Linked DNA regions of Homo sapiens. The protein of the gene in region 1 purifies or fractionates together with the protein of each later gene. This does not show direct contact. Each region holds a gene or a part of one and is shown on either strand. Other genes may lie near its edges.

Region 1 (3,919 bases):
TTAAACAAACAAACAAAACTGGTAAGAATTTGACAGCGGTCACCAGAACAGTACTCTACCAAGCATAAGAAATCCTGGAATTATTCTATCTTGCAGAAGAGGGTGAACATCCTAAAGATTAAATTAAAAGGCACTTCTAAAAAGTATAATTGTGTTTACCCAACTTCCTAGGGAAATGTCTTTGTTAAAAAGCTGCATTTCATTCATTCATATTCCGGATAGTGGGCATTTTCTAATAAAAAGTAAAATCTCAGTAAATGGGCTACAGTTTTGTTTATTCCTAGAAAGGCTCTCTTTTAAAGTGCGGTGTCTGCAACGTTGTTATGACAATAAGTCAAATTCTTATTGATATTCCAAGTATAAAATAATCCGTAGCAATGTTACTAAAATGTGCTCAATTTTGCTCTTCAAATATGAAAGCGTTTCATCTGTGTTTCAGAAACCTAACTCAGCTGTAGACAATTTGGTTTTCCCTTTTAACTTAAACTTGTTTTACTAAGATCATCAACAGATTGTCAGTTTCCCAAGCACCTGACACTGAGGCGCTTAGATGGGAATCCGCGTTAAGGTTTTATTTAGCATCCTTCCTCATCAGAATTTTAGCGTCTTATCAGCCACTGCAATTTTCCCTGACATAAAATATATATGTTCATAGTACAAATGCACGCAAATATTTGTGGCCGAATCTCGGCAACCCGCTGGAAAGGATTAAACGTGCGGTTGCCGTGACTAAACGCATTCATTCACCCTACAAGATTTAGGAAAATGTAACGTTGCAAGGGAAGCAAGGTCTCTGTGTAAACCTCGTAATCGCCACCAAAAGTCGGTAGCTGGGAGCCTTCAAAGCCCGCCAAACACACTGGAAGCATCCACAGCTGTTTTAAATTGGTTTTGGTTTCTGGAAATAGCGCACTCGGTACGGCAGCATCTCTGGCCTCCAGCCGGGGTTAACCCTGACCTGAACGCCCTGTTTAGCTCCCAGCATTTCATGATTCCGCTTCCCTGCTCCGTAAAACCGAAGAAAACCGAGATTTCCGTCACCGAGAAATGCACTTAGCAAGAGGGGGAAATTCGGTGTTTTAAATGTCACATTTTTGTGTTCTCTACCACTATCAAGAAAAGGAAAAAAGATGTGTTTGTGTAGCGGGGACGCAGCTTGACACCCATTTCCTTTGGCTCGCATCGCGGTCGCAGAGCCCAATCGCGGGGAAACGGGCCCCCCAGAAAAACAGGCAACGACCCCCAGCTCTTTGCTACAGGGATCGGGAGAGGACTACCCTGGGGCTGGGCGGGGAGGGGGATGTTGGGAACAGGAATTGGAGATGGAATTTCTGCGCCCGCAGAGCAGGGAGGGGCCCGCGGGGGCGCGGAGAGGAAAAAAAGGCCAGGGGTCAAGCCTGGGGAGAGAGAAGCTGGGCCGGGGAAATGGGGTACAGGGTGTACTGAAGGAGGGGTACGGTGGGGTCCGGGACAGAAAGAGAGGCTGGTGCCCAAAGGGCGCGCTCAGGCGCCCGGAACCCGAGCGGGGGAGGGGGAGGCGGCGGCCTGTTGGCCCCGGGACCTCCACGTCGCGCGCAGGCCACTAACCTGTCAGCAAGAATGTGCCAGTGGTCGCGGGGCTCATCCTGCGTGTCCCCCGACCCTGTCCCGTCCAAGCACAGGGGTCTCCCAGCTCCCACCACCGGGGCAATTGCATTCTTGGCCTGGCTAGGCCGTCCGTCCTCGATTCTCCCCTCCCCTCCCTTTCTTCTTCCCTCCCAGCTTGGCCAGTTCAGCATCAGCATCCCGCACCCCCTCGGTAATCCCGTACTCCCTCTAGCGGCGGGCCACTGCAGCGTGGCCACCGCCCCCACCCCCATCCCCCATCCCCGCACCCCCCTCCACCCCCTAGCCCGCGGAGCACGCTGGGATTTGGCGCCCCCCTCCTCGGTGCAACCTATATAAGGCTCACAGTCTGCGCTCCTGGTACACGCGCTTCAACTTCGGTTGGTGTGTGTCGAAGAAACCTGACTGCGCCCTGAGGAGAACAGCGGAGAAGGTCCACCGAGCCTGGCGAAAGGTCCGCTGAGCGGGCTGTCGTCCGGAGCCACTCCGGGCTGCGGAGCACCCAGTGGAGACCGCGCCTGGCTCAGGTGTGGGACCCCATCCTTCCTGTCTTCGCAGAGGAGTCCTCGCGTGGTGAGTATGCGGTGAGGACGTTTTTTTTTTAAAGATCACGTTCATTCCCCGTGCTTATCGGGAGCTGCGGGAGATGGAGTAGCACCCCAGAATGTCTCCACGCAAAACTTGTCACGCCTTCACTGGCTGTACCCCAAAACAAATGGGGAAACCAAGCCTTAAAGGCTTGGGTTTCCAGGACCAAGTCCAGATACGGGCTGTAGACAGAGATGAGCTGCGGACAGTGATGAGCTGCAGACGGTCAGGAGCTATAGATCGATTTGCAATTTGCTCTTCAAATGCGCTACCAAGTGCCATGCTTTACAAACAGATAAGCGCTTCAAATGCGCTACAAACTGGCGCTTCAGATGCGCTACAAGCACGCTTCACGCGGGCGACAAACTGATGGGAGCTACAACTGGCGCTTCATTGCGCTATAAACTGATGGGCGCTTTATGTGCCACAAACTGACGGATGGGCGCTTCAGTGGCGCTACAATCCAGAACGAGGAGCAGCGATATAGGAGCTGCAGACAGAAAACTGAATTGCGCTTTACATGCGCTGCAAAATCTGAGCTGCAGAAGAGTAGCACTACAAAAAACGCTACAAAAACGATGCGATTAGCCAGCCCGACAACAGCGCTTCATTGCGCTGCGAGGCACATGAACTGCAGAGGTACATGAGCTGCGGAACAATTCACACCTAAGATGCACTACAAAGTGGTAAGAGCTGCAGAGGTACAGGAGCTGCAGACCGTTTGCGCTACAAATAAAGCAGCCGTAGTGGGACATGAGCTGCGGAGTACAATTCCTCTGTTTTCTTGGAGCAGGACCCCACCCTTTCACCTTTTGGAATGGCTCCCACTCTATTTTTCTGCAGGACGGTTCTCGCATGATGGTGCTGGTAGACAAAATGGAGCCCCGGGCAAAAATTAGTGTTTAACATTCTGCCCACACCATTCCCGCTATAGCAGTGGAGTGGAGGGGCACTGATTGGAGTGGAAATGGGAATCTTTTGGTGATGGCAGAGCAGGCTGCCTGCCTACTTGTGCTTGATTGAAGTGGCGGTGTAGTTGTGGTGGCGCGAATCAGCGTCCAGCAACAGTTTGTGGAAACTGTGGGTTTGCTGAGTATGGCGGGGGAATTGGATCTGTGGATTGCTCTTGCTGCATGAAATGAATCTGGCTTTGGTGACTGGTGGGAGGGGTTTGGGAGGGGGGATTCTGGCGGCGGGGGGGGGGGGTGTGCAGATACTCTGCAGCCCTGTAGCAGCCAGTCTCAGGCCTGCCCCGCCCATCCTAGTGTGCCTTCTCTGCGGTGCTTAGCGCCTCCTCCTACAGCGCCTCCTCAGAGCGCGCCTCCCCTGCAGCGCGCCTTCCCAGAGCGCGCCTTCTAGATGCGGCCTCCTCAGGCCCCTCCTCCCAGCTCCTTAGCGCCTGCCTGCCCAGGCCCCACCTCTCTCTGGCCACCTCATTCTGAGGTGAGCTGCTCAGGCCCCGCCTCTTCCAGGCCCGCCTTTTCTGTGGTGAGCTGCCCAGGCCCTGCCTCTCCCGGGCCCACCTACTCTGAGGTGAACTGTCCAGGCCCCGCCTCTCCCGGGGCCGCCCCCTCTGAGGTGAACTGCCCAGGCCCCACCTCTCCTGGGCCCGCCTCCTCTGAGGTGAACTGCCCAGGCCCCGCCTCTCCTGGGCCCGCCTCCTCTGAGGTGAACTGCCCAGACCCCACCTCTCCTGGGCCCGCCTCCTCTGAGGTGAACTGCCCAG
Region 2 (3,919 bases), on another chromosome or scaffold:
ACCATCTTCATTAAGCTTGTGGAGGAAAATTTTAGACAGTCAAATAATCTGAAGTAAAATTATGAATAATAACATATAATATGAAGGAAAAGTACAACCAAAACCTACAACAGGAGGTTGCCAATGCTTGTTAGGCAGATAAATAAAAAGCAAATGTTGAAAATCAGAATCAACTACTACATCCCTCAAGAACAGCTGACTTACTGCTTTATTTTACCTTAATATCTGTGTAAGCTGGGAAATTGTAGTCCAACCACCCTGGATTCGAGAATAATCTTGACTGAGGACCAAGAGGCAATATTGAATGAGATCATAACAATATATATCTTGTTTGATTTTCTTCAACTCTGAGCTTCCTAAAGGTGTGATGTTTATTATTTCTAAGGCAAAAGGAAATAAGATATATTTATTTTTGCTTAATACATCCAGGAGCTATTTGTATTTTTATATGTTGAATAATCACTAAAAATATATTAGAAGGAAAAATTACTGTTCTATTATAGTGTTAAGACCTCTCTGAACAAATTTAAAAGAAATGTTAAAATTGTACCAACGATGGAACCATTTTTCACTTAAAATGCTATCTAATCACAAAAAGATTTTCTTACCTTTTAACTTCAACAGTATAACAGGGACATTCTGCTCAGGGCTTTTTGCAACTTCAGCAGCTATAGATAAGATCCTTGGGTCTGTACCTGTTGGCTTCATTTCTCTTATTACCTATATTTTAACAGAATCAGAGAATAAAGGTCAAAAAGCCAGGAAATGTTCACTACCTAAATAATGTTTGAAATATAATTTCAATATAAATAAAAACAGCTTTTCTTGCCTTGTTTGAGAGGCAGAATGTAGATTTTTTCATTTCTTCCTTATAGAAAACTGGTTTTTCTAACCAGTGTAAAAGAGCTCAAGATTCCTATACCTCACATGTAACAGCTATAGCAGGTATTGTTTATTGTGCACTCACTAAGAGTCAGGAACTGTGATAGGAGCTTCACATTCTCTCTCTAATCTGCACAATAATTCTAGGATAGGAATTAACTTCCTTTAATCACACAAGAAGAACTGCAAAAAAGAGCTAACATGACAGGCCTAAGACTACTATACTTTCAAAGGTGTGCTTACAAGGTTGGCCTTTGACTGGCATCTAGAACTTAGATTTCAGGAGGGTTTCTGCCATTCTCTGGTAAGAGTGGCTCCCTGTGCCTAAAACTGTTTATGAAAAACAATGTGGTTCATGCTGAATACCCGCCTTCCTTCCAGGAGTCTTAGAATTCTGGTACATGCCAGTCGAGAGTACCTATACAGAGGGTGCCTATGTGGCCATCCTCCAATAAAAATTCTGATCACTGAGTGTCTAGTTGAGCTTCCTTGGTAGACAACACTTCAAACATGTTGTCATAGCTGGTTGCTGGAGGAATTAAGCATATCCTACGTAACTCCACTGGGAGAGAACTCAGAAGTTTGTACCTGATTTCCCCCAATATGCTTTTTCCCTTTGCTGATTTTGCTTTATTTCCCTTCACTGTAATAAATCATAGCTGTAAGTACACTATATTCTGAGTCCTGTGAGCCCTCCTAGTGAAGCACTGACCTTCAACACACTAATGCTCAGAAATGTTACATAAATATAAGATAATCAAAGATTGCTTCTAAATAGTATAGTGAATAAGGCCAGGGGCAGTGGCTCACACCTATAATCCCAGCACTTTGGGAGGCCAAGGTGGGTGAATCACTTGCGGTCAGGAGTTCAAGACCAGCCTGGCCAACATGGTGAAACCCCATTTCTACTAAGAATACAAAAAATCAGCTGGGCATGGTGGCGCGTGCCTGTAATCCCAGTTACTCAGGAGGCTGAGGCAGAATAGCTTGAACCTAGGAGGTGGAGGTTGAGTGACCTGAGATCACATCACTGCACTCCAGCCTGAGTGACAGAGCTAGACTCTGTCTCAAAATAATAATAATAATAATTAATAAATAAGTAAATAGTATATTGAATAAAATCAATTCTCCTAACATTAAAAAACAAGGTCCACATCCTAATTTGTTGCTAAAACTTTCTCTATGTAAAAAAAGTTTAAGGCTGAAGAATCGCTTGAGAATTGGTGTTCAAGACTAGCCTGGTCAACAAAGCAAGACCCTGTCTCTAAAAAAAAAAAGTTTTAAAGCATTTGAAGCTCAAAGATATCCTTATATAATAAAAGCGTATTTCCTTATTTATAGTAAAGCTAACATGTATCAACTGTTTAATATAAGCTAAGCACTATGTTAATATACTATACACTGTCTTGTGTAATCCTCACAACAGGGCTATGAAGTAGATAGAGCGTGTGATCATTTCCATACATACATATATACATATACATATATATGTTTTTGTCCACAGTTTCTGGCTCATAACTCCCATAGCCTTTGTTACAGTCTTGTTATGTTAGGGTGCTTTAGGCCTCAGAAAACAGAATCTATTTCTGACTTCCTCCTCTCCTCCTTTCACCTGCTCCTTCTCTCCAAAGCAGAACTCTAATCATCCCTGCCTTTCTCTGACCTATCTTGTCTAGCTGTAGGTCATAAGACCCCTGTTTCAGAATGGGTCTTGCCCTATATCCTGGAAGGAATGCTGAACAGAGAAGCCAAGAAGAATCTGAGCAGACAGGCCTTGCTGGGTTTCCCCACTCAGTCTGTTAGTATCAGATCATATCTTTTTTGTCCAATCACATTTCCAAAATGATTGTCCATGCTTCAGTCATGCCTATCCATTGAAATCTCCATAAAAGGCTCAAGAGGATGGGGTACAAAGAGCTACTGGATAGCTGAACATGTGGAAGTTCCTGGAGGAATTTCCTGGATATCACAGGCAGGGAGGACATGGAAGCTCTGTGCCCCTTCCCATACTTCACAGTATGCATCTCTTCATTTGTATCCTAGTATTTTTTTTTGGAGACAGGATCTCACTCCTGTTGCCCAGGCTGGAGGACAATGGTACAATTATGGCTCACTGCAGCCTAGACTTCTCAGGTTCAGGTGATTCTCCCACCTCAGCCTCCCAAGTAGCTGGGACTACACTTGCAAGCCATGACGCTCGGCTAATTTTTTGTATTTTTAGTAGAGACAGGGTTTCTCCATGTTGCCCAGGGTCTCTGTAATATCTTTATAATAAACTGGAAAACATGTTTCCCTCAGTTTTGTTAGCTCCTCTAGCAAATTAATACACCCCAAGGTGTGTATTAATAGGATTCCTCATGTGTAGCTGGTCAGTCAGAAGCACAGGTAAAACAACTTAGGGCTTGGATTGGCATCAGAAATGGGGGTCCCTCTTGCAGGACTAAGCCCTAAACCTAAGGGATCTGACCCTATCTCCAAGTAGACAGTGTCAGAATTGAATTAGATGATACCCAGCTGGTGTCCGCTGCAGAATTGATTGCTTGCTTGTTGGTGGAAGAAAACTCCACACATTTGGTCACAGAAGTCTTTTGTGTTGATTGTCATGATGTGAGAGCAAAAACTGTTTTTCCATTCATATATCTCTTATTAGGTACAATATAAATCATTAAAAGACAGGTTTGCTGAAAATACCTTAAAGAAAGCCCAGTGCAACTCCCGGCACATAGTAGTCACAAAACTTTCAAAGAGAGTGCATATAGTTATCTCATTCTCTCCAAATGGCTGCATTATGCTACATTTCCTTTTAAGAATGCAGCAAAATATATTTAAACATCACCTCTACTGGAGGTCACTCAAGCTGTATGCTATTACAAGCAACACTGCAATGAATATACACATGATCCTTTACATTTTTGCCAATCTGTTAGATGAAAATTGGTATGATTGTGTTTTAATTTGTATTTCTTTGATTATTAGGGATGTCAGGCACATTTCGTGTTCACTGGCCATTATTTCTTTTATGTATTTTCTATTCATA

What was found.
Region 2: the proteins of PEG10 (region 1) and IQCB1 purify together in Homo sapiens (affinity purification with mass spectrometry; 3 studies listed by BioGRID and IntAct, with this or other methods). This does not show direct contact.

Annotation. Positions count from the first base shown.
Region 1 is NC_000007.14:94,654,403-94,658,321, forward strand, and holds the start of PEG10 (retrotransposon-derived protein PEG10), read left to right. Parts: upstream 1-1,967; 5' UTR 1,968-2,184; coding exon 2,185-2,189; intron 2,190-3,919. Other genes in the region: SGCE (epsilon-sarcoglycan isoform 5 precursor), read right to left, coding at 1,588-1,696.
Region 2 is NC_000003.12:121,828,253-121,832,171, forward strand, and holds part of IQCB1 (IQ calmodulin-binding motif-containing protein 1), read right to left. Parts: intron 721-3,919; 5' UTR 709-720; coding exon 609-708; intron 381-608; coding exon 218-380; intron 1-217. UniProt on the Homo sapiens protein: Involved in ciliogenesis. The function in an early step in cilia formation depends on its association with CEP290/NPHP6.